Linked DNA regions of Homo sapiens. The protein of the gene in region 3 purifies or fractionates together with the protein of the main gene of each other region. This does not show direct contact. Each region holds a gene or a part of one and is shown on either strand. Other genes may lie near its edges. The genes, in order: NUP88, SPTAN1, SLFN11, FLNB, EIF3B, EIF3L and NUP210.

Region 1 (3,500 bases), about 30 Mb from region 3:
CTGATCAAATATATCCAGTTTCTTCCAAATTTATCACAGTAAAAAGTATATGAAACAGATGAGGACAGAAAGGATGCACAGTAATTCTGAAGACAGAAGAGAACCCATTCATAAAACCGCTATGCCCAAGGTTGCATACTTCAAAAATGCTGGATTGGCAACACTACGTTGCAAAATGCTTCTAATATGCTTTTCAAAGGAATCTGGGGTTTCAGCCAGAACACGGAGGGGAGACTCTGCCACTTCAACATCTTCTCGAGTACAAAGCAGGGGAGGAGACGCTGGATGGACTGTACTTCTGCAAAATAAGTAAGTAAATTGAATTCTACCATGGAGTGATTTACTGTATTACAGGAAAGCAGAAACCACATTAATCCAGAACTTTCAGAATATAAAATAAAGTGTAACTTTTGTAAAAGTGCAAGAATGCATGTTTTCCACCTTGAAAAGGTCACTTTGGGAAGCTACACCCTTATTATTCCAATGCCCCTGATTTGTGAAAGCATTTCTGACTGCCATTTCCAGTTCTTTTCTAAAAGATCAAGGCAGCACAAACACCTAGCATGGATTCTTGGCAAAGGACTTGAAAGCCAGTTTATAAGCCGGAGCCACAAACATAAATTACTTATTTGTTAGGTTTAGAGTTGATCAAAACCAATATTAAGCCAAGAAACTGCTGTATATACCATATTGGTTCTATATAATTTCATTTCTAAAAACTATTCAGTCAAGTGCAAATACTCAAACTTCAAAAAGAGCTTAAAAGATCTCACAGACTTCGGCAGCATGGCAAGTGACTTACTCTGAAGGCAACAATTCTAACGTGAATGTTTGGTTGGGCGTGGTGGCTCACGCCTGTAATCCCAGCACTTTGGGAGGCCGAGGCAGGTGGATCACTTGAGGTCAGGCGTTCAAGACAAGCCTGGCCAACGTGGTAAAACTGTCTCTACTAAAAATATAAAAATCAGCTGGGTGTGGTGGCACACATCTGTAATCCCAGCTACTTGGGTGGCTGAGGCATGAGAATCGCCTGAACCCAGGAGGCGGAGGTTGCAGTGAGCTGAGATCACACCACTGCACTCCAGCCTGGGTGACAGAGCAAGACTCTGTCTCAAAAAAAAAAAAAAAAAAAAGTGAAAGTTCATGAAATAGCATAACTTTATAGACAACTTGTATTTCAGGGAGTTGGCAGAAATATGATCTGAAAGTATCCAGATAATTGGCCTGGCACGGTGGCTCATGCCTGTAATCCCAGCACTTTGGGAGGCCGAGGTGGGTGGATCACCTGAGGTCAGGAGTTCAGGACCAGCCTGGCCAACATGGCAAAACCTCATCTCTACTAAAAATATAAAAATTAGCTGGGCATGTGGTGTGCGCCTGTAATCCCAGCTACTAGGGAGGCTGAGGCAGGAGAATCACTTGAACCCGGGAGGCAGAGGTTGCAGTGAGCTGAGATCGTGCCACTGCCCTCCAGCTTGGGCAACACAGCAAACTCCGTCTCAAAAAAAAAAAAAAAAAATATCCAGACAATTAATGTTTATTTTTCCCCTTTGGGATTCATATTTATTCTGAAGTAAGCTAGTGTGACTAGGTTTTATTTTACTAAATGTACTGTGGGTGTTTAAAAAGTATGCTGAGGTAACTTACAGGTAATTTTTTCTCCAGTGATTTTATTATTTTTGTTTGGTCTTGCTAGCTTTTAGTGCCTTCAGTGTAAATAACACAAAATTTATATTTATTTTTACATCCAGATAGTACAACTTAATCAAGCTTCAAAGACTATGGAAGATCCTCTAAGGACAGTAAACTACTGCCAGTATTAGGAATTTATGTCAGCATCCAGAGGTGCAAGCTTTGAACGGACAAGGGGTGGGGGTGTTGTCTAGTGTTTGAAGCTCCAGTGACTTTTGTTTTTGGTACTCATATTCCTACATTTATGTAACTCAGAATGATCTTCCAGGGCTGTTGGAAAAGGAACATAGTGATTACAGCTTAATTATCTGAGTTCCTTAAAGGAGCAAAGACTAAGAGTTCAGCTTTTTTGTTTTTTTTTTTAAAAGACACAGGGTCTTGCTCTGTTACCCAGGCTGTAGTGCAGTGGCATGATCATGGTTCACTGCAGCCTAAAACTCCTGGGCTTAAGCAATCCTCTCACCTGAGCAGCTAGGACTACAGATGTGTACCACCATGCCTGGCTAATTTTTTTGTTTTTTGTAGAGATGGGGGTCTCACTGTTTTGCCCAGGCTGATCTCGAACTCTGGGCCTCCCAAAGCATTGGGATTACAGGCATGAACCACCACTGCACCCAGCCTGAGTTCAGCTTTATTCCAGTTTACATAGTCTACAGTGTCCCTCAGGCTGGCAGAGATGGAGAAATTAAAGAGTATGAGTATGGACTTCTGAGTCAATGAGACCTGCATCTGTATCCCAGCTCTATTTGTTACCTGTGACTTCAGCATTTACTAACCTCTCGATCCCCGTTTCCACTTTTATAAAATGGAAATGACAGTGCCTTCCTTACAGGGCTGCCCTGATGATTCCAGGAGGCAGTGCGGGTACGTGGCTTACTTCTGAGCTTGGCGTATGGTCACAGCTTGATAATTATTACTCATATCGATAATGGAATTTGGTATTCAATTTTAGTATTTTTTCTCCACACTCTGAAGAAAAGCTCCTGACTCTCAGCTAGGTGCAGGGGATGCCAGAAACTATACCTACAATGAAACCTTATAGAGATGATGGCAGGAACAGAAATATCCATCCTTCCAACCCTCAAGTCAGAAGCCAAAGTATAAACCACACATGTATAGCTTCAAGTTGGTTACTGAGTGCATTTTCCCAACTTAGATATTGCAGAATTAACAAGAGCTGTGTGGAGAATATAAAATGGGACGTACAATAACGGCCATATGAGGCATTCATAGGTACTGGTGATGCAGATCATCGTGGGTCCCAGAATGTCAGGTACAATCCAAAATCCTCGAATTGGAGCTGGCTGCCTGGAAAAACACAGTCATAGTTAAATTACAAAGCAGCAAATGCAATGGAACCAAGAGCAAAGACATGACAGGTCCGCGGCCTTCTCAGGCCTGGGCTGAAGTTGCTTGGGACATCCTATCAGTACCATAACCTCAAAAGTGGTGGCTTGGAAACCTTTAATGCAGCTCCACACTAAAGTCTAGAGCCCATGTGACTAAGTCACTCAGGAATCCCTAACTGTAGCGTGCTGCTGACTGTAATCTCAAAAGTTACACGTTACACTGAAGATCTCTCCAACTTGCACATAAGCCCCAGCTATCTTTGTTTGCCTAGCCCAGTGCTAACAAATTAAGTGCTTAGAAACTGTTGAATGAACAGAACTACCGAGTCTCTCTCAATGAGGCCCAATGTCAATGTCACAGGAAATCACTTGGCACGCACAGCGTGTATCTCTCTCAGTCTTCCTTCCCACTTCAGTGAAGACACTGGAAACTGAGACCTCAGATGGGAACTGTCATTC
Region 2 (3,500 bases), on a different chromosome or scaffold from region 3:
GAGGGGAGGCAAGAGCACACTGCAACAGACACACACAAAGCCCAAGCTGGCAGGGCGCAGGCAAGGGCAACCTGGTGCCCGGCGGGTACCTGGAGGCAGCAGGCCCAGTGGTTCACCCCAGGCAGCTCACACTAGGAATGGGCAAGATGGGCAGGGCTTGGGAGGAGCCATAAGGTGAGGGGAGCGTGGCACCTCACGGAGACAAGAGCAAGACCAGCAGACACAGGCATGGGGCAGGGAGGGGAGTCAGGTGGCCAGGGTGTCCTACGGGCACAGGCCGGAAACTGCGATCCCTACGTCCCCAGCTGCTCTGCCATCAGAATGTGTGGCCCGGCTGGATGGGTCTATTTCTCCCCTGGCCGCCTATACAGGCTTGATGTGCCTGGGTGCAGAGCCTCAGGAGTGCAGGCCAAGCCACTCCAGTCCCAGCAGCCCTGGCTTTCACAGCAGGCTTGGCAGATTACAAAGGTGACCCGGCCAGGCAGAGGCCCCAGGCCAAGCAGAGAAGTCCCTGCCGGGACTGGGCGGGACAGCCCAGCCCTGCTCCTCCCTGGGGCTCCTCCCACGTCCTGTCTATCACATAACGGGTGCATTTTTGCCTTCTATTAGGGCGGACAGTCTTGTTACCCTCCCTGACCCCAGGAAAGTAAAGTGGCAGCCTCAGCTACTTAGGGGGTGTCAGTGCCCAGCCCTTCTCAGCTGTGGACTTACTGTACCCTGCCTGAGCCCCCAGCACTGCCATCTGCTTCATGCCCACTGACCACTGTTGGACTCGCTGGGGAAGCAGAGGTGAGAGCCCAACAGAGCCCGGTGGCTGGACAGGCACGGGGGTTCTTAGGGCCTCTGGACTCCAGCTCTGGCCTTCGTGCTTCATCACCTTCCCTACCCAAAGTGAGCCCTTGGAATCGCCCAGTGAGGCAAGGACGGCTCCCCCTGGCTTGAAGGCTCTATCGGGGACCAGGGACCATGGGCTATGGGGCAAGGCACACACTCCTCATCAGGTGACGAGAAGGGTGGGAGGGGAAGTGCAGCCCGCCCTGGGCAGGAAGGCCCATCCCGGGATCCTCCACAAGCCAGGCCACGAGGGGCAAGCGCACGAGACCCCCACATGACAAGCCCAGAGAAGGAAGAAAACAATATTAACCCATCGAGGAGGTATGTCCTGTGGAGAGCAGATCCAAGCAGCCGGGAGACAAGGTGGTGTCCGGACAACAGCAGCAATCGGGGGGACAGAGAGAAGACACAAGAAAGAAAGGAAAACAAAAGCAAGAACATCAGTACCCAACGCACAGACCCTGCATCGTCTGTCACCAAGTCATGGCTGGGGCTGACCACGCGCCCTGCATGGTCCCACTCAATCCGGGATCTCTAACAACTTGATGTCTGGGACATGCAGCACTGAGAGGCTGCTCCACCTATGCCCCCACTCCCGGCTCCAGAGCCCGACCAGGCGTTGCCAGCCCAGCTTTATTCCCAGGCTGCCTCTGGTTTTACACAAAGCACCACCACCTCCTTGGGGCTGGAAGCTCCCCAGGGCTTAAGTACAGCAGGGACATGCTGCTGCTCCCCGGCCCCAGCGGGCTGGCACCTGGTCTCTTGGATCCACTGGTGGAAGGCGTTGGCGTGCTGGGCAAACTCCTGGCGCAGCTTGTCGTTCTCCTCCTGCCGCCGCTGTTCCTTCTGCAGCTCCAGCTCCCTCTCCTGAGGGCCAAAGGGGGGCAGATGCTGTGCGCTGCTGTGGCAGTGACACCAGCCCCTCCTTCACAGATGGGCTCAGGGTGGTGGTGGCCTCCCCACAAGGAACCTCCCCAAAGATGAGAGGAGGAGGCTGGGAGACATGAGGCCGGCTCAGAGCACTTGGTAGTTCTTTCTCTGTTCCCACCCCCCAGGGGCTTCAAGGAAGAGGCGGACCTGGAGGGAAGCGACTGGTCAGTCAAGCAGGGAGTTGCTGGACTGTCAGAAATGGAAACTTCTGGCTGGGTACAGTGGCTCACACCTGTAATCCCAGCACTTTGGGAGGCCTGGGCAGGAGGACTGCTTGAGGCCAGGAGTTGAAGACCAGCCTGGGCAACATAGCAACACCCTGTCTACAAAAATTAAAATAATTAGCCAGGCGTGGTGGCACGTGCTTGTAGTCCCAGTTATTCAAGAGGCTCAGGCAAGAGGATCACCTGAGCCTGGGAGGTTGAGGCTACAGGGAGCCATGGTAGCACCACTGCACTGAAGCCTGGGTGACAGAGACCCTGCCTCAAGAACACAAAAAGAAATGAAACTTCTGATGAAACCATGCTCCTCCATCCTGCTCGTCTTGTCGTGACTCAGTTAAGTGTGGGCTCTGAGCAGGGCCCAGAGAGGGCTCTGGGAGGCCGAGCAGCTCCTGAGGGCAGCGGGAGGTGTACCTTGATGATTTTCTGTAGGTTCCTCCAGGTCTCCTCCAGGGCCTCCATGGTAAACCAGGTGTAGGGGTTGGAGGCTACGCGGAAGCTCTTGATCTGGCGGTCCAGCTCGGCCAGCTGGTTGAAGTCAGCCTGGGCAGAGCTGAGGGAGGAGCGGAAGGCGTCGTGGGCCTCGCGCAAAGCTTTGATTTCTTCCAAGGAGTTGCAGCGCACGGGGTCTGTTAAGTCCTCCTCTGCATTTTCAAACCAGCTGTTGAAGGCAGAAGCCTTTTTGGCGAAGGTCAGGAAGAGGTCCTCCACCTGGAAGCAGAAGAGACTGAGTTGGCGGAGTCGCCAGGGCTGGACGTGCCGACGCAGTGCAGGAGGTGGGGTGCGGGGTGGTTCCTGGGAATCAGAGGCGCACACAGCCTGCTGGGAGCTTAGCTCCCCTCTGCTCCTGTCTCCTGCTCCCCCTTCAAGTCTTCACCAGCCTTTTTTCCCCTTCCTACCCTTTGCCCTTGTCTCTAGTCTGTCCTGCGTGCTTCTGAATGGCGATCTCACAGGGCCCTCTCATTTGCCCTGGTTTTAATTGATGCCAGCCACACCCATGTTTGAAAGCTCTGCACTGAGCTCACAGCTTCCTCAAGGGGGAGTGGCAGAGCTGGGCAGACAGAAGGTGGGCGTCCTTCCTTGAGCTGTGGGCCAGCTAAGCTTCACGTGGCCCCATCCTCACCTTGCGGAAGTGACTCTGAGCCTCCAGAAGCTTCTTCTTGCGGGCGGCTGAGTTGGCCAGAAGCTGGCTCCACCTCTTCATGAGGGAGGCGTGCCGGGCCTCGATGGCCTTGGACTGAACGTGTTTGGCGGCGAGAAGCTGATCTTTGAGGGCAGTGATGTTGGCAATGCCTTCCTGCTGGAAGGCCTGCAGCCCAGCGTCAAAAGTTTCCTGAACAAGGAGTGACAAGCCAATTTGTGGTGACTCCACAGGACTGGAACTTGCTCTTCCTAGGCTCAGATGGCACCAGCATGTCCCCCAGATGCCCAAGCCAAACTGTCCACCTGGACACTGCTGAGACTCAGTCACACATGCCCCCTTTCCTGCTCTCCTTCAGACCGCAGATCACTGCG
Region 3 (3,500 bases):
GTTTAGACCCTTGCCTACAAATTTCTATTTCTCAAAATTCCATTCTGCATTCCAAGACCATTGAAACATCTTTGTCAAGTTATTTGTAAAATATTCCTTTCGATGTACAGGGATTTCAAAGTTAAATATTTTCTCTGCCCCATAAACTTTATTGTCAAAGCCAATAGATTATAGTTTTTGGTTGGCAATTGTATTTAAACAGCAACCCCACCATCTGCTTAGATTCTTTTGCAGGCAAAAAAGGCTTAGGGAGCTCTATCTCAAGCTCTTTCCTTAGGATTAAAGGAATTATAATCAGCATCACTTGCACATTTTTTGTAAGGTAGAGATATTGTCCCATATAAATTTGAAATCCTAAATAAAATTAAACTAAGTCAATAAGAAATTAAGAATTCAGAAAAGAAACTCAGTACACTTACAAAAGCACTTCAGAAACAAAAGCACCTGATTCTAGTCAGTTTACAGGATAACTTTTTCAAACCTTTCAGTGTAGCCAGAGTTCCCACCAACACAGTGAATTAGCACCACCTGCTATCTCTTTCCACCAAAAGCAGTCCTGAAGGCTATGTATACAGAAACCTATGTAGACAGAGGTAACAGAGTTCAAGGATTAAGACTCAGTTTTCCTAGGTTCAAATCTCAGCTCTGCCATTTATTAGCTGTACGGTTTCCATTTATTAGCTGTATGGTTTCCATTTATTAGCTGTATGGTTTCCATTTATTAGCTGTACGGTTTCCATTTATTAGCTGTCCCCATTTCTCCCCATGCCCCAGGATCTAGTCCTGCAGGACCCCTGATGGAGCAGTGACTCTGATGTGGACATGCAGGGACAACCACCCCCAAGCGAGGGGCTCAGTGGGTAGCATCTGTGCATTTCTCCCCTGCCAAGAAGGCTTACCTAGTTTGCTCAGCAAACTCCCTAAAAGGTGAGGAATTAGCCTGGGAAAACTTTGCAATGTCAAATTGTCAAGTAGTGCCCAATTTTCTGTATGCTTCTGGGTGGTTCTTATTTTTTTGTTTTACTTCCCCTTTCCTTCCATCCTCCCACCCATCTCCCCTAGATCACAGGGGATTGGCTAGCCTCAGATAGAAACTGAACAGAAAGGGAAATGGGAGGGCAGAACAAGACGGTGTAATAGAAGGCTCCACCTACCATCCCCCTTCTCCAGCAGTGACCATGTGGTGCAGAGAAATCTGTGTGCTTGGGGAAGGGAGGGCACAGCAATTGTGAGACTTTGCATTGAACTCAGTACTGCCCTGTTACAGTGAAAAGCAAAACCATGCTGAATCCAGCATATACCTGCCCATGGAGGCAGAATTTGGACCAGCCCTAGTGAGATGGAAATTGTCCATCCCAGCAGTTGAAACCTGAGTTTCAGCAAGCCTCGCCACTGTAGCTGAAGTGCTAGGGGGTTCTAAATAAACTTGAAAGGCATTCTAGGCCACAAGGACTGAAACTCCTAGGCAAGTCCTAGCCCTGAGCTGAGATCAGAGCCAGTAGGCTTGGAGGGCACACGACCTACTGAGATACCAGCTGGGGCGACTAAGAGAGTGCTTGCACCACCCCTCCCCCAACCCCAGACAGTGTGACTCTCAGCTCCAAAAAGATCCCTTCCTTCCATTTGAGGAGAGAAGAGAGAAGACTAAAGAGGACTTCTGTCTTGCATCTTGGATGTCAGCTCAGACACAGTAGGATAGCACATTGGTCAGGGTCATGAGACACCCATTCCAGACCCTATCTCCTGGACAACATTTCTAGACACACTCTGGGCCAGAAGAGAAACTGCTGCCTTAAAGGGAAAGACCCAGTCCTGGCAGGATCTATCACCTGCTGACTAAAGAGCCCTTGGTCCCTGAATAATCAGCAACGATACCCAGGTAATATGCCGTGGGTCTTGGGTGAGACTCTGCTGGCTTCAGGTGAGACTCAGCACAACCCCAGCTGTGGTGCATACAGGCAGAGACTCTTTCTGCTTGAGAAAAGCAGAGGGAAAAGTAAAGGGGACTTTGTCTTGCACCGTAGGTACCAGCTTAGCCACAGGGGTAGAGCAACAAGTAGGCCCTTGGACAGCATTTCTGGACCCAACCTGGGCCAGAGGGGAGTCCACTGTCCTGAAGAGTGAGTCCCAGACCTGGTAGCATTCACCACCAGTTGACTAAAGAGCCCTTGGGCTTTAAGTGAATATCAGCAATAGCTAACAGTACTCCCTGTGAACCCGTGGTTGTGTTGGCCACAGGGTCATCTCCTCTGCCTGTGGAAAAAGGAGGGAAGAATGGGAAGGACTGTGTCTCATGATTTGAGGGCCAGCTCAGTCCCAGTAGAATGGAACACCAGGTAGACTTCTAAGGTTTTCTTACTCCAGTCCCTGGCTCCTGGATAGCATCTGTGAACCCACCTAGGGCCTGGGGGAACTTGCCACTCTGAAGAAAAGAACACAGCTTGGCTGGCTTCACCACCTGTTGATTGTTTGAAAAGATAAACAAAATTGACAAACCTTTACCAGGCTACCTGAGAAAAAAAGGAGAATACCCAAATAAATGAAATCAGAGATGAAAAAGGAGACAATACAACTGATACTGCAGAAATTCAAAGGATCATTAGTGGCTACTATGAGCAACTGTATGCCAATAAATTGGAAAATCTAGAGGAAATAAATTCTTAGACACATACAACCTACCAAGATTGAACCATGAAGAAACCCAAAACCCGCACAAACCAATAAGAAGTAATGAGAACAAAGCCATAATAAAAAGTCTCCAGCAAAGAAAAGTCTGGGACCCGATGGCTTCACCACTGAATTCTACCAAACAGTTAAAGAAGAACTAATATCAATCTTACCCAAACTATTCAAAAATTAGAGAAGGAGGGAATACTTACAAACTCATTCTATAAGGCCAGTATTACTGATACCAAAACCAAAGACACATCAAAGAAAAAAAATTATGGACCAGTATCTCAGCAAAATACTAGCAAACTTAATTCAACAATACATTAAAAAGATCATTTATCATGACTAAGTGCTATTTATTTCAGGGATGCAAGGATGGTTCAACGTATGCAAATCAGTCAATGTGATACATCATATCAACAGAATGAAGGACAAATGCCATATGATCATTTCAACTGATGCTGAGAAAGCACTTAATAAAACTCATTATCCCTTCATGGAAAACTCCTCAAAAAACTGGGTATAGAAGGAACATACCACAACATAATAAAATCCATGTATGACAGACCTACAGCTAGTAGCATACTGAGTAGGGAAACACTGAAAGCCTTTCCTCTAAGATCTGGAACACTATAAGGATCCTCACTTTCACCATTGTTATTCAACATAGAAATCCTAGCTAGAGCAATTAGACAAGAGAAAGAAATAAAGGGCATCTAAATTGGAAAGGAAGAAGTCAAATTGTCCTTGTTTGCAGGTGATATGATCTTACATTTGAAAAAAACCTAAAGACTATACCAGATAACTATTAGAACTGATAAACAAATTCA
Region 4 (3,500 bases), on a different chromosome or scaffold from region 3:
CAAACGGAAATACAGATATATAAGAGAGTGTCTTCCCAGCCTTCCCTCATGTGGACGAACCATTACATATTTGACCATTTCCCTATTGGAGGGCATTTTGGTTCTTCCTGCCCTCGCTGTCCCCAGTGTTGCTGCGCAAATCGACTTTTCCCCTAGTCACCTCACACTCACAAAGATGTATCTGTGAGATTTAGTTACCAGAGGAGGCAATGCTAGGGCCCCAGTGCAGGCATCTATGATTTTGACAGATCTTGCCAAATTGCCCTTCAGAGGGGCTGTTGCAGTTCACACGCCCTCTGGCCATGGAGAAGAGCACCTTCTTTTCCACAAAATTTGCCAGTAGAATATGGTATCAAATTTTTGGAGCTTTGCCAGTCTGATGGTTGGAAAGAAACAGAATCTCAGCGTTGCTTTATTTGTATTTCTCTTGTGAATGAGACCACACAACTTTCCCTATGTCTATTTGTATTTCTTTTTCTGTGAACTGAACATTTGGATCCACGGCCTGTTTTTCTATTTGGTTATTGGCCTTTGTCATATAGTTTCTAAGAGCAATGTAAACATTGGAGAGATTAGCCCTTTGTGGTAGGAGTTGCAAATGTTTCTCTGAGATTGGCATTTACTTTAGTTGTCTGTATGTAATATTGGTTTAAAGCAAAAATGTATTATCTGCTTCTATTTAAATATTCTAAAGCGGCAGATGGAGAGAGAGGAAAAAATGTCTTTCTCACATCTGCCATCCACTTCCACTGCTGGTGTGAGTTGTGTATCTTTTCAGATGTTTCTCTCTGTATCTACAAACATACATATAATTTTATTCTATTTTGTTTTTAAAGGAATAGCATAATGGTATTCATAGTTTATAGCAACTTGCTTTTTTTCTTTTTAATGCATCATATTATGGATAATTTCTCAAGTCAGTAAACATGGGTCTTCCTCACTCTTTTTAATGGCCCATGAGTAGATCAGCATTTATTTAACCGGTCCCCTGTTGTGAACACTTAGGTCTTTTCCTGATGTGCACCCGAACACTGCAGAAATGAAAGTGCTTACATAGGGCTAGGAGTCGGGGTGGGCAGAGAAGACCACTGTGGGGTTGATTCCTTACAGGTTGAATGGCATGGGCAAATGGCCTTCCAAAAGCCCTTTCCACTTACCTTCCCTCTGGCCATGGGTCCTTTCACCACCCAGTGCAAAAGTTTCTTCCTTATTTGTCAGGTTGGGCTGGTACCTTACCTTAGCCCCCTTCCTCATCTGGAGCAGCTTCCAGGATTGTTTTTCTTATGTTGTGATTGAAGGAATAATACTGCGTAGACCCTCTCTGATGTCCTAGGATGGCGGGGGATGGGAGGTGCATGTGCATCTCCTTCTGTCTCTTCATGCCTCTGCTTAGGAGGCGCCAGACCTGTAGAGAGGTGGACGTCAAGATGCCAGTTGTCCAGGGTCTTCGTTCACCCCTTAATGAGCACCAATTTTGTTTGTGTCCTTCGTAAACCCAGAGAGCCCACTCCAGTTCTACGTGAACTACCCCAACAGTGGAAGTGTTTCTGCATACGGTCCAGGCCTCGTGTATGGAGTGGCCAACAAAACTGCCACCTTCACCATCGTCACAGAGGATGCAGGAGAAGGTACTGTGTGGTTTACGTGTTTATACGCCTCCAGCTGTCCATTTGGAGGGTGAAGTGGACACGGTTCCAGGGTGGCTTTTAAAAGTGAGACAATCGAATGGTAGTATTTGTCTTGTCTTTTCTCTCGTGTAAATCTGTTTCTTCTTTAGAGCCGCTTCGTCTTCTACCCAGACAGACATTTTTGAAGTCCTTTGTGTTCTAACTGAAATCAGATTCATGCTATGAAATACTTTATGTGACTTGTCTGGAATTTAAGTGTGTTTTGGTTGGTGATGTTTTTGTTCTTGTTGCACATGTATCCACAAGACCACATGACTTACTGAGTGGCTCTTTTTGATAAAGCTGTGTGCCCATTCCCGTGGTATTCATGGATAATCCCAAATCTGTGGTTCTAATGGGATTTCCGTGATGGCAGCCAGTGCCTGATGGGCAGGGACAATCCACCTCTGCCCTCCACCACCCACCGTCTCCTATGTGTAATTGATGTACACGGCTCCTTCCTTTTCTCATCCCATGCATCCTGAGAGTAGAGAGAGCTCCAGGGTTACTTGCAGTGAAGAACTCAGATGTTTGGGGTTTCTTCTCAGTGGGTGTTTTTACTGCGTGGACTGCTTCATTCTGACAGATGTCCCTTTGCCCACAGCTCACGTGGAGTGCGTCAATCCATTGTCCCCAGCATCAGGGCTGCCCTGGATGAGTTGTTAAAAGGAAACTCTTAAAACAAGGCAACTCTCTCCCTAACACCCCTGCATCCCTGTTCCCACTTGTAGGTGGTCTGGACTTGGCTATTGAGGGCCCCTCAAAAGCAGAAATCAGCTGCATTGACAATAAAGATGGGACATGCACAGTGACCTACCTGCCGACTCTGCCAGGCGACTACAGCATTCTGGTCAAGTACAATGACAAGCACATCCCTGGCAGCCCCTTCACAGCCAAGATCACAGGTAGGGTTGTCTGGCTTCTGGGGTCTTCCTCGTGGGAAGTATGGCTGCCTCTGACTGCCACCCTCCTTATCAGACCCCTGGCAGCAGGCTAGACGTCTCTTTGAGTTTAGGTTTCACAGAGACTTGTTGAGGAGGAGCAGGGGATGGAATGCAATTTTGGATTAGCTAAATCCTTCTCTTGCTGATAATCCAGGAAAATGCGAGAGCTAGTATTTGGAGCACACTTTTATTGTGCCAGTGTGACTCTAGGGTGCAAAGAGAAAGCTCTCAGATGGAGTGTTCGAATCATACTTACTGCAATAGTGCATGAAGTGCATGAGCTTAGACATGCCCTTCAGCGTCACTACTAGGTAAATTTTCTGCTATCCCTTTTACAGATGGGAAAACTGAGGCTTGGCAAGGTAGTGGTGTAGCCAAGTTCACATATAGGTAAACAGATCCAGGTTATCAAATTCCAAAGCCCATGCTCCTCACCTTGCTGTGTTCAGGTTATGCTTTCAGTGGGTTATAAGGAAGATGCACAAGGCAGATCCTGTTTCCCCACCGTATTTAGACCTGTCTGTGAAGCAGCCAGTAGTACTGTGTGGAATGTGGTCATTGTTTACCTAGAAATGCCCACAGCCATGCCAGGCAGGTATGAGGTGCCTTCAACTAACAAAAATTCCTATATTTTATTTTATTTTTGAGACAGAGTCTCACTCTATCACCCAGGCTGGAGTTTTAGTGGCATGATCTCGGCTCACTGTGACCTCTACCTCCTGGGTTCAAGCGATTCTCCTGCCTCAGCCTCCTGAATAGCTGGGATTACAGCACCCACCACCACACCCAGCTTATTTTTGTATTTTTAATAGAGATGAAGTTTCACCATGTTGGACAGGCTGGTCTTGAACTCCTGACCTCAAGTGATTCGTCTGCCTCAGCCTCTCAA
Region 5 (3,500 bases), on a different chromosome or scaffold from region 3:
TGAGAGGTGCTGCGGCATGGGGTCCCCAGGGAGCCAGCCTCGGCGTTAACATGGAAACAAGCACAGCAACAGCCTCTGGTGGCCGCTGTGAGACTTACCAAATCACAGATGCAGAGTGTGCAGTGAGTATTACATATGACTGCCATCATATTATTTTTACTGGAAATGTTATCTGAGGCTAAGTAAGCCTCCAAAAATACAGTAGCAAGTGTGGACAATGAAGCAAGGGAGAGCAGCAACAAAAGGGTATTCTTTTAACTCAGAGCAGAAAGCTGGAAGCTTCTCCATGATTTCGACACACTGCTGGAACACAGCTGAGACCGACACCGTGACACCAACCACAAAGGTAAGGCAGCCTCACAGCTGTGTAACGAATACCCTTCCCACTAGAAGACAAGGGACTGACCCCCGGGGGGAGGTTACTGGATGGCTGGAAGGCACTTGTTTAACCACAGAGAACCACAACCCGCAGACAGGTCTGCCTGGTCACTTCACGAAAGCATCTGGGAGCGCTTATTTCACTCTGTGCGGGCTTGGCCTGAGTCCTGGAGTACCGTGGGTCTGCAGAGGTTCAATGAAGTCCTATCCACTGACACTGGGGCAACCCTTTCAGCGCACAATACTCTCTCTACCAAGAAGCCGGGTGCAGGCGCCTGAGGGGTCTCTGCCACAGCAGAGCGCTACTCACAGGGCGGACAGGCTCAGAGCGCAGACACCTACCTCCTCAGGCCCGCCAACACCACGAACTGTCCTTGGGGGCTCCAGAAGATGGTGTTCGCCTGCTGCTTGTCGAACATCTCTGAAAGGAAAGAGCGCGCCTGTCACGAGCTGCGAGGGCTTCCACAGTGCCGGGGCAGCCAAGGCTGGAGGACTTGGCCGTGCTCATGCTGCCCATGAGGGCAGAGCTGGTAATGCTGGACCACCTCGGAAAACAATTTTACAAAGTCCATCGCCAAGTACCCCCTAAGTCATGATCCATACTTTAAATGGGAAAAAAAAGAAGATGCGACAGGGGTATTTCAAAACAATACTATCTTATTTCCTGAGGTAACTGGACAAAGAATTCCCTTTACAGCAAATGTTCACTGCTGCAGGGACCCCAACAGAGAGATGTCAGAGACGTGTGACCCCAAAAGACCAAAGCCACTCTCCTAGCGACAAGGCGTCTTTGGATAAGCTGTATGCTTGTTGAAACTGACTACAGTCATCATCTTTGCAGGTACTAACTCTTACTTCCGGAATGGATCTCGGGCAGAGCCGCTGGAACAGTGAGAAGTGAAGGCCAGCTGGGGCTGGCTCAAGTCCCCCTCAGAGCATATGCTCCCTGCATCTCAAACAGAGCTGACAACCTGTGGCCTCTCTCCCCTCAGCCTGTGGTACATCCAAAAAAGAGGCATGGGGCAGGCTGACGTGGGGAGGAGGGGAGGAGATGTGGGAGGGCAGTGCACCCTGGCAGGGGCAGGGGTCTCAGACTTGCACAAGCGAAAACCCCAACAGCCACGGGCATGGGATGGAGCCCATGCGGTGGCCCCAGCGTCCATGCCAAACCTCAGGAGAGGCGTGTCACGCAGCATGTTTGGAAGGTACAAGGTGCCTCTGCTTGCCTATGTTTTATGACCTAGAAGACTTACACAAGTCTCTGGACAGTCTGCAATTGCCCATATGTTTCTATCAACCAGAATTAATGAAACAGCCAATCTTGTAATCCACTGCCAACTGAGGGCACCACGCACCCTGCCAAGCTCTAGCAAAGTGAAAACTAAACTCCTCACAGAATCATGCTGCGAAAGGTGCGGCCAGGAGATTCCAACCCCTTCCTGGTACAGAGCCAAACCCATGGCTCTGCAGGAGGGCAGCTGGCAGCCAGAGTCCTGTGTGAGGAACACAGCCCATCGCCACCTCCTGGCTACCACACACACACACCCCACGCCTATGAAGCAACAAGCAATGGCTCATTCAATCCCCGCGGGCACCGGGCTCTGTGCTGAGCAGAGACCCCAGGATGAAGTGAGGAGCTGAGGGCACAGGCAGCAGGTGCCGTGAGACAGGCGAGGGCCCACGCACCACTGTGAGGAGCGAGCCCCAGGTGGGTGCAGTGTGGCACCCCTGGAACCGGGTGCACGGGGGCAGAGTACAGCTGTGTGCAACAGCTCTGCGCACCCTGGTCAAAGGCACCTGACCCAGACTGGGGACTGGCAGGAGTATGTCCACAGGAAGTGACCCCAAGCCCAGGGACAGCAGCTACAGCCAGAAGAGAAAAAGCTTCACTTGAGATGATGGCAGAGAATGGAAGCCTTGGAAATACTCGCTTAAACGTGAGGGCTCAACGGGGCTCAGAGAGACACCCTGCAAGGAGGCGGCACCTCCAGGCCATCGCTCACTTCCATCAGCCGAGGCCACACCCCATTCATAGGCGAGTCCCGGCCTGCCCAGCAGTGGTCCTAGGCCAGTCAAATGCTCACTGTTGGGCAGCGACTGGGTCATCATCTGTGCTGACCTACTCAGAAGAGGAAAGGGACCAGGTTACTTACTGATGAGTTCAATCTTCCCGTTGTTTTTGACGTGGTAGAAAGACACAGATATCCGCGGAGCCTCTCCGTGCAGCACAGCAAACTTACTTCCATTTGGTTCCCAGGCAAAGGCTATGATGGTTTCTAAAATGCACAAAACAGACCCCTCCCTTTTTGGTCAATTCAGAACATAGTGCTCTTGATCAGTTAAAATGTTCACTATTCAACCACAGAGAAATATCCCCCGACGTGTAAAAGTTCATTAAAAGGACGGGAGAGCAAGCAACAGCAGGAAAGGTGCACATTCCTGGAGTTTCAGAGACAGCTGCTTCCACTTGTGTGGAGTGACCTACGTGAAACTGCTCCCTTCCTGAGAGCAGGACACCCACAGCAGGACCGCAGGAGCCCGACATTGTCAGCAGCTGTGGATGCCGCTTCCCTCGCACCCAGTGTGCACCTACAGTGGGATCCTGACCTCCGGTCTCCCTGCCTGGAAGGGCGGCCATGTTTCCCATTTTCTCACCTATTTTTAACCCTTCCTTCCTCCTTTTCTCCATGGCAAAACAAAAAGCCAAACAAGAACACAGGCTCAATCTCTTTTCTCTTTTTTTTAGACAGGGTCTTGCTCCGTCACCCAGGCTGGAGTGCAGGGGCGCAATCTCAGTTCACTGCAACCTCTGCTCCTGGGCTCAAGTGATCCTCCCGCTTCAGCGTCTCAAACAGCTGGGACTATCGGTGCGCACCACCACACCTGGCTAATTTTTTTTATTTGTTTTTTGTACAGAGAGGGTCTCACTATGTTGCCCAGGCTCTAAACACGTTCTGTGACCTGGAGATGACTATTCATGGTGAGGGCTCACAGTCCTGACTCAGCTGCTCAGACAACCCCTCGCATGGAAGTGTTAAAGCCAAGAGTAAAACAGCACGTAGGCCCCATTCGCCTCAAAGTGACTAAAATACAACTTGCCTTTCATCTCGACCACATCCACA
Region 6 (3,500 bases), on a different chromosome or scaffold from region 3:
TTATTCCAGAGTGACTGTAATGACCCCCAAATTATAGAAGGAAATAGAAACAAGTCAGTACAAAGATCTAAATTTCACCATATATGAGAGATCTCTGTCCTCTCTTAAATCATCCAGCCTTCGACAAGTTATTTTGCCAAGGACCTACTACATACCAAGCACCAAGGAAACAAAATGGTGAGCAAAACAGACACAGACCCTCTTGAGCTTCCTGTCTAATGACTCAGCCACTGGATTCCACTCAGTGCACAAGATATAAAGAGCTCACACCTACCATTGCCAACCTGTGGAGCAATGGCTTCAGCCTCGGGCCAAGGTGTATTCTTGAAGAATCTTTCAGTCAGCTTGGTCCAGCTAAAAATCAAGAAAAAAATCTCTAAAATTCCAAAAGGACTGGAGAATGCCAATCCTAACATTTTACAGATGAGGACCCAGGCTTAGAAAGGGGAAGATGTCAAATAAACAGAGCTGAGGCCAAAGCCCTTCAAGCCCACAACTGTCCTCAACCCAACTCCACACTTCAATCTTTCTCAACACAAGAAAATATTGTTTTTGTATCAGTTAGGGACCCATCAAGCTTTTCAGGATAATCTCCTGCCTCTGTATCATTAACTATAGCCATATTTAACTGCTTGCTGTTTTCTGCTATAAGAACTACTTTTTTGGCCACCATTCTTTAACACAGCGTTTCCATCTCCTGGAGCACATCCAAACGTCTCTAAACACAGAAGCAAATCAGTCTGCTGCAGTCCAAGGCCACAACAGACCTACAGCATCCAATTTAAACACTGCTGCCTATCCAATCCAAACACTGCTACTTGACAAACCTGCAACAGGTTGTTTAATTTTCTTCTCCTGATGCCCTCAGCAGCTATTAATACTTTCCTCCAATCTCCTCAAGCCCCACCCCTCCTGCTTCTCTGGCTCTTTTAGTCCAACATATAAACATGCTCAAGTTCCCCTAAAAAACACTGAACAGGCCAGGCATGATGGCTCACGCCTGTAATCTCAACACTTTGGGAGGACAAGATAGGGGTATCGCTTGAACCCAGGAATTCAAGACAAGCCTGGACAATATAGGAAGGCCCTGTCTCTACGGGATGGGGGTTGGGGAGAAACACAGAAACAGAACAGAAAAGAAACACTGAAACAGGCCAGGCGCGCTGGCTCACACCCGTAATCTCAACACTTTGGGAGGCTGAGGCGGGTGGATCACTTGAGGTTAGGAGTTCCAGACCAGCCTGACCAACACGGTGAAACCCCGTCTCCACTAAAAATACAAAATTAGCCAGGCATGGTGGTGCACACCTATAATCCCAACTACTTGGGAAGCTGAGGCAGGAGAATCGCTTGGAGCCAGGAGGCGGAGGTTGCGATGAGCTGAGATTGCGCCATTGCACTCTAGCCTGGGCAACAAGAGCGAAATCCTGTCTCAAAAAACAAAAAACAAAAACAGAAAAAACACAGAAACAAAACACAAAGCCACTCAGTGACCCTTTATGTCCCCGATACTTACCAATTCCCCTTTCTCACCCCACTGCTCTCTGGCTGTTGCTTCCATCACTCTACTGACATTGACCTTGCTAAGGTTATCAAGGCCCTCCAAGTTACCAAATTCAACTGGCTTTTTTTCTCATCTGGACCTCACTAAAACATTTGGTGATACTCTCTTCCTCAGTTTCTTCTGCAGACTTTTTGGTTCCTGTGACATTTCTTTGCCAATTTACTATCTACTTTTCACTTTTCTTTCTGCCTCCTTTACTAGATCCTTTCTTTGCCTGCCCACCCATCCCTAAAGAAACATACTTCTTAAGGCACCAGCATTTCTTCTCACATTCTCCTAGAGAAAGACTTACAAGATGCTTGGCTTCAACTGTCATCTGTATCTGCGGGCACTGCCCAATGCAATAGCCACTAGCTACATGTGGCTACTATATAAGCAAAGAGTTAAATTTTAAATTTCAGTTAGTTGCCATTTAAGTTTAAAAACCAACACTTAACTCAGTATTGGAAAACTTTTAGGTCTATTTGGAATTACTCTACTATTTGAAGATTCAAATTTCAAATTTGAATTACTTTTCCAGTCATAAACTCTATAAAATCTAAACACAAAGCAAGTATTTCTGATACACACTGGATTTAGGAAACTTTAAGTATAAAGAAAAAAAAGGGCAAATATCCCCTTAATTTTTAAATACTGATTACATATAGAAATAATATTTTAAATAAATCTCCACTTCGCTTGGCTGAAAAATTAAAATTAATGTCTAGCTACATTTCTATTGAACATCAGGTCCATTTTTTAATTTTGAGAGAGGGTCTCGCTCCATTGTGCAGCTCACTGCAGCCTCAACCTCCCAGGCTCAAGTGATCCTCCCACCTCAGCCTCCCAACTAGCTGGGACTATAGGCATGCTGCCACCATGCCCCAGCTAATTTTTGTAGGCGCTGATTTATATACTTCTAATCAGAAAAGACCCGGGGAATAAAGAAAACACAGTTCAGCACACTTGCCTTTCAGGTCACCCACCTGGCCCTCTTCCAACTGTCCTTTCCTTTCTTTCATTCCTGTTCTAAAGCTTTTTAATAAACTTTCACTCCTGCTCTCAAACTTGCCTCCCTCTCTTCTTCTGCCTTGTGCCCCTCAGTCGAATTCTTTCTTGTTAGGAGTCAAGAACTGAGGATGCTGTCGACCCGTACAGATACAGACTCATCATCAGTAGCATTTTAGCCCTCAGTGTAATTCTTTCTTGTGAGGAGGCAAGAACTGAGGCTGCTGTAGACCTGTACAGATACGGACTCATCATCGGTAGCATTTTACCCCTCAGTCGAATTCTTTCTTTTGAGGAGGCAAGAACTGAGGCTGCTGGAGACCTGTACAGATACGGATTCATCATTGGTAGCATGTTTTGGTGTTGTGTCACTTCAACACCCTTCAGCTGCTAACCTCTTTTGGTGCCGCATGACTTGGATCCATTTGCTAGTGGTGAAAGACCTCGATGCTGCACCTTCTTCGGCTGGAGGTGTTCAACCTCCGAACAAGGTTTTCTCCCTTTCTCTCTCCTCACTAACTAACCCCCAGATCAATTCTTCTTGGTCATAAGTGACTCTGTTCCCATTGGCTGATCTCTCAGCTCAACCTAATGGGTGGCTTGCAGGGGCGGGAAGGACCTTGGAGTCCACACCAAGTAGAACTTAGGCTCACGAGAGTGGCAGGGGTGAGGCCTAAAACCATGCAATGTCTGAGGTTTCCTCTGCTTTTCAACTACAATCAGCTCTTTCAAAACAACAAAAAAAGAAAACACATGTCAGAGATCCTATTCATTGATCAATAGGCCTTTGGCTATTTGTTTTCTCTCCCTCATCCTTCTGACTTGCTTAAATTCTATTTCCTTGGTGAAGTCACTCCTGACTATCCCAGCTTTGACTGACCTATCTTATCTCTAACGCTCATTACACAACGGCAGCCCCTCAAAACCTGCGGAGTTCAGCTTGCTCTGA
Region 7 (3,500 bases), on a different chromosome or scaffold from region 3:
CATGTAGCACCATACCCAGCTAATTTTGTATTTTTAGCAGAAATGAGGTTTCTCCATATTGGTCAGGCTGGTCTCAAACTCCTGACCTCAGGTGATCCGCCCACCTTGGCCTCCCAAAGTGCTGGGATTACAGGCGTGAGCCACTGTGCCTGGCCAATACTGATTTTTAAAAGCACCACTGGGCCAGGCATGGTGGCTTATGCCTGTAACCCTAACACTTTGGGAGGCCAAGGTAGGAGGATCACTTGAGACCAGGAGTTTGAGACCAGACTAAGCAACAGTGAGACCCCATTTCTAAAAAAAAAAACAAAAAGGCCGGGCACGGTGGCTCACACCTGTAATCCCAGCACTTTGGGAGGCCGAGGCGGGTGGATCACGAGGTCAGGAGATCGAGACCATCCCGGCTAACATGGTGAAACCCCGTCTCCATTAAAAAATACAAAAAATTAGCCGGGCGTGGTGGCAGACGCCTGTAGTCCCAGCTACTTGGGAGGCTGAGGCAGGAGAATGGTGTGAACCCAGGAGGCGGAGCTGGCAGTGAGCTGAAATGGCACCACTGCACTCCAGCCTGGGTGACAGAGCAAGACTCTGTCTCAAAAAAAAAAAAAAAAAAAATTAGCCAGGTGTGGTGGCATGCACCTTTAGTCCCAGCACTTTGGGAGGCCAAGGTAGGAGGATTGCTTGAGGCCAGTAGTTTGAAACTAACCTGTGCAATAGTGAGTCTCTAAAAAATAATAATAATAAATAAAAATTTTAAAAATTAGCTGGGCGTGGTGGCTCACATCTATAGTCCCAACTACTCTAAAGGCTGAGGAGGGAGGATCACTTGAGCCCAGGAGTTTGAGGTTATAGTGAGCTATAATTGTGCCACTGCACTGCAGCCTGGGTGATAGAGCAAGAATCTGTCTCAGAAAAATAAAAGTACTACTGAAGTTTTAAAATCCAGCTGAAGGAAACTGGGTAAACCAACAATCATCTGAGAAGGGTGGCGCATTTCCCCAGGCATCTGAGAGTGAGTGTGGTTCTGGATCTGAGGCTGGTTTTGGACACAGCTCTGCCACTAACCAGCTGTGAGGCTCTTGGACCCAGGCTCCTCATTTGTACAGTGCAGTCATTCTTACCAAAGGAGTTTTGTTTATTGTTCATTTTTAGGATTAAGTGGGGGCATAGTATGCAAAGGGATTAACAGAAAAATTGGTTCTTTCATTTTGGCTCCCTCTGTCCATCCCCCCTGTCACCACCCCCACATCTCCTCTGCAACACTGGAAGCCCCTGCCTCTGGACCTGCAGGCTGTGGCCAGGAAGGGCAGTTGCCTAGACACCTGCACCTGCCGACGGCCCCTCCCCACCATCAGGCTCCTCTTGGTTGGACACCTGCCCTAGCCCAGTCACATACAGGTATGACTTGTATTCGTTTATTTACTTATTTATTTATTTGAGACAGTTTCACTCTTATCACCCAGGCTGGAGTGCAGTGATGCAATCTCAGCTCACTGCCACCTCCGCCTCCCGGGTTCAAGCAATTCTCCTGCCTCAGCCTCCCAGGTAGCTGGCATTATAAGCGCCCAGCACCACGCCCAGCTATTTTTTTTGTATTTTTAGTAGAGATGGGGTTTCACCATATTGGCCAGGCTGGGCTCGAACTCCTGACCTCAGGTGATCCGCCCTCCTCGGCCTCCCAAAGTGCTGGGATTACAGGCATGAGCCACTGCATCTGGCCAGCCACTGCACCCGGCCTAGTTTTTTTAATAGACAGGCTCTCACTCTGTTGCCCAGGCTGGAGTAGAGTGGTACAATCATGGATCACTGCAGCCTTGACCTTCTGGGTTTAAGCAATCCTCCTGCCTCAGCCTCAGGAGTAGCTGGGACCACAGGTGCCTGTGCCACACCCAGCTTTATTTTCCTTTTCTTTTTTTTTTTTTTTTAGTAGAGACAGGGTTTCGCTATGTTGCCCAGGCTGGTCTTAAACTCCTGAGCTTAAGCGATCCTCCTGCCTCAACCTCCCAAAGTGCTGGGATTATAGGCATGAGCCACCATGCTCGGCCCTTTTCTTATTATTGTATTAAATGGATTCTTCTTTACTAAAAAATTACTTTAAAAGGAAACCTTGGCCAGGTGTGGTGGCTCACACCTGTAATCCCAGCACTTTGGGAGGCAGAGGAGGGCTGATCACCTGAGGTCGGGAGTTCGAGACCAGCCTGGCCAACATGGCGAAATCCCGTTTCTACTAAAAACACAAAAATTAGCCGGGCATGGTGGTGGATGCCTGTAATCTCAGCTACTCAGGAGGCTGAGGCAGGAGAATCGCTTGAACCTGGGCAGCAGAGGTTGCTGTGAGCCAAGATCTTGCCACTGTACTCCAGCCCAGGCAATACAGCAAGACTCCATCTCAATTAAAAAAAAAAAAGGGAGGCTGAGGCAGGTGGATCATGAGGTCAGGAGAGCAAGACCATCCTGGCTAACATGGTGAAACCCCGTCTCTACTAAAAATACAAAAAATTAGCTGGGCATGGTGGCGGGCACCTGTAGTCCCAGCTACTTAGGAGGCTGAGGCAGGAGAATGGCGTGAACCCAGGAGGCGGAGCTTGCAGTGAGCCGAGATCAGGCCACTGCACTCCAACCTGATCAACAGAGCAAGACTCTGTCTCAAAAAAAGAAAAAAAGCCAGGCACAGTAGCTCACGCCTGTAATCCCAGCACTTTGGGAGGCCGAGGCAGGCAGATCACGAGGTCAGGAGTTCGAGACTAGCCTGGCCAATATGGTGAAACCCCGTCTCTACTAAAAATACTAAAATTAGCCAGGCGTGTTGGCACATGCCGGTAGCCCCAGCTACTCAGGAGGATGAGGCAGAAGAATTGCTTGAGGCCGGGCGCGGTGGCTCACACCTGTAATCCCAGCACTTTGGGAGGCCGAGACGGGCGGATCACGAGGTCAGGAGATCGAGACCATCCTGGCTAACATGGTGAAACCCCATCTCTACTAAAAATACAAAAAAAAGTTAGCCGGGCGTGGTGGCAGGCGCCTGTAGTCCCAGGTACATGGGAGGCTGAGGCAGGAGAATGGCATGAACCCGGGAGGCGGAGCTTGCAGTGAGCCAAGATCGCACCACTGCACTCCAGCCTGGGCGACAGAGCAAGACTCTGTCTCAAAAAAAAAAACAAACAAACAAAAAAGGAAACCTTACACACTAGTGTAAATAAGAATATCACAGCATTTGTCATCCATCCAGATGACTCAAAGCAGTGTCAGTAAGTCCTGGGGGGAAGCTGCTACCTGCAAAGACTCTAGGCGTCTGCCTGTTCTCTTGGGAGACAGGCAAACATCAAAGAGTACAATGAAAAGATGGTGTTGGCCAAGGCCCGAGCAGGAGAAAATAGGGAGTTGCTATTTAATGGGTACAGAGTGTCCATTTGGGAAGATGAAAGAGTTCTGAAGGTGGATGGTGGAGGTGGCTGCACAACAATTGTGAACGTACTTCATGCCACAGAACTCTACACCTA

The links.
Region 1: the proteins of SLFN11 (region 3) and NUP88 purify together in Homo sapiens (affinity purification with mass spectrometry, with the first as the bait; one study listed by BioGRID). This does not show direct contact.
Region 2: the proteins of SLFN11 (region 3) and SPTAN1 purify together in Homo sapiens (affinity purification with mass spectrometry, with the first as the bait; one study listed by BioGRID). This does not show direct contact.
Region 4: the proteins of SLFN11 (region 3) and FLNB purify together in Homo sapiens (affinity purification with mass spectrometry, with the first as the bait; one study listed by BioGRID). This does not show direct contact.
Region 5: the proteins of SLFN11 (region 3) and EIF3B purify together in Homo sapiens (affinity purification with western blotting; 2 studies listed by BioGRID, with this or other methods). This does not show direct contact.
Region 6: the proteins of SLFN11 (region 3) and EIF3L purify together in Homo sapiens (affinity purification with western blotting, with the first as the bait; one study listed by BioGRID). This does not show direct contact.
Region 7: the proteins of SLFN11 (region 3) and NUP210 purify together in Homo sapiens (affinity purification with mass spectrometry, with the first as the bait; one study listed by BioGRID). This does not show direct contact.

Annotation. Positions count from the first base shown.
Region 1 is NC_000017.11:5,388,663-5,392,162, forward strand, and holds part of NUP88 (nuclear pore complex protein Nup88), read right to left. Parts: intron 3,001-3,500; coding exon 2,899-3,000; intron 299-2,898; coding exon 140-298; intron 1-139. UniProt on the Homo sapiens protein: Component of nuclear pore complex.
Region 2 is NC_000009.12:128,625,587-128,629,086, reverse strand, and holds part of SPTAN1 (spectrin alpha chain, non-erythrocytic 1), read right to left. Parts: intron 3,319-3,500; coding exon 3,109-3,318; intron 2,697-3,108; coding exon 2,400-2,696; intron 2,084-2,399; coding exon of another isoform or gene 1,997-2,083; intron 1,702-1,996; coding exon 1,589-1,701; intron 1,163-1,588; coding exon 1,145-1,162; intron 1-1,144. UniProt on the Homo sapiens protein: Fodrin, which seems to be involved in secretion, interacts with calmodulin in a calcium-dependent manner and is thus candidate for the calcium-dependent movement of the cytoskeleton at the membrane.
Region 3 is NC_000017.11:35,367,122-35,370,621, forward strand, and holds part of SLFN11 (schlafen family member 11), read right to left. Parts: intron 580-3,500; 5' UTR 482-579; exon of another isoform or gene 420-481; intron 1-419. UniProt on the Homo sapiens protein: Inhibitor of DNA replication that promotes cell death in response to DNA damage. Acts as a guardian of the genome by killing cells with defective replication.
Region 4 is NC_000003.12:58,144,422-58,147,921, forward strand, and holds part of FLNB (filamin-B), read left to right. Parts: intron 1-1,499; coding exon 1,500-1,628; intron 1,629-2,398; coding exon 2,399-2,572; intron 2,573-3,500. UniProt on the Homo sapiens protein: Connects cell membrane constituents to the actin cytoskeleton. May promote orthogonal branching of actin filaments and links actin filaments to membrane glycoproteins. Anchors various transmembrane proteins to the actin cytoskeleton.
Region 5 is NC_000007.14:2,371,827-2,375,326, reverse strand, and holds part of EIF3B (eukaryotic translation initiation factor 3 subunit B), read right to left. Parts: coding exon 3,478-3,500; intron 2,655-3,477; coding exon 2,532-2,654; intron 800-2,531; coding exon 721-799; intron 1-720.
Region 6 is NC_000022.11:37,852,419-37,855,918, reverse strand, and holds part of EIF3L (eukaryotic translation initiation factor 3 subunit L), read right to left. Parts: intron 355-3,500; coding exon 275-354; intron 1-274. UniProt on the Homo sapiens protein: Component of the eukaryotic translation initiation factor 3 (eIF-3) complex, which is required for several steps in the initiation of protein synthesis.
Region 7 is NC_000003.12:13,410,323-13,413,822, forward strand, and holds part of NUP210 (nuclear pore membrane glycoprotein 210 precursor), read right to left. Parts: intron 1-3,500. UniProt on the Homo sapiens protein: Nucleoporin essential for nuclear pore assembly and fusion, nuclear pore spacing, as well as structural integrity.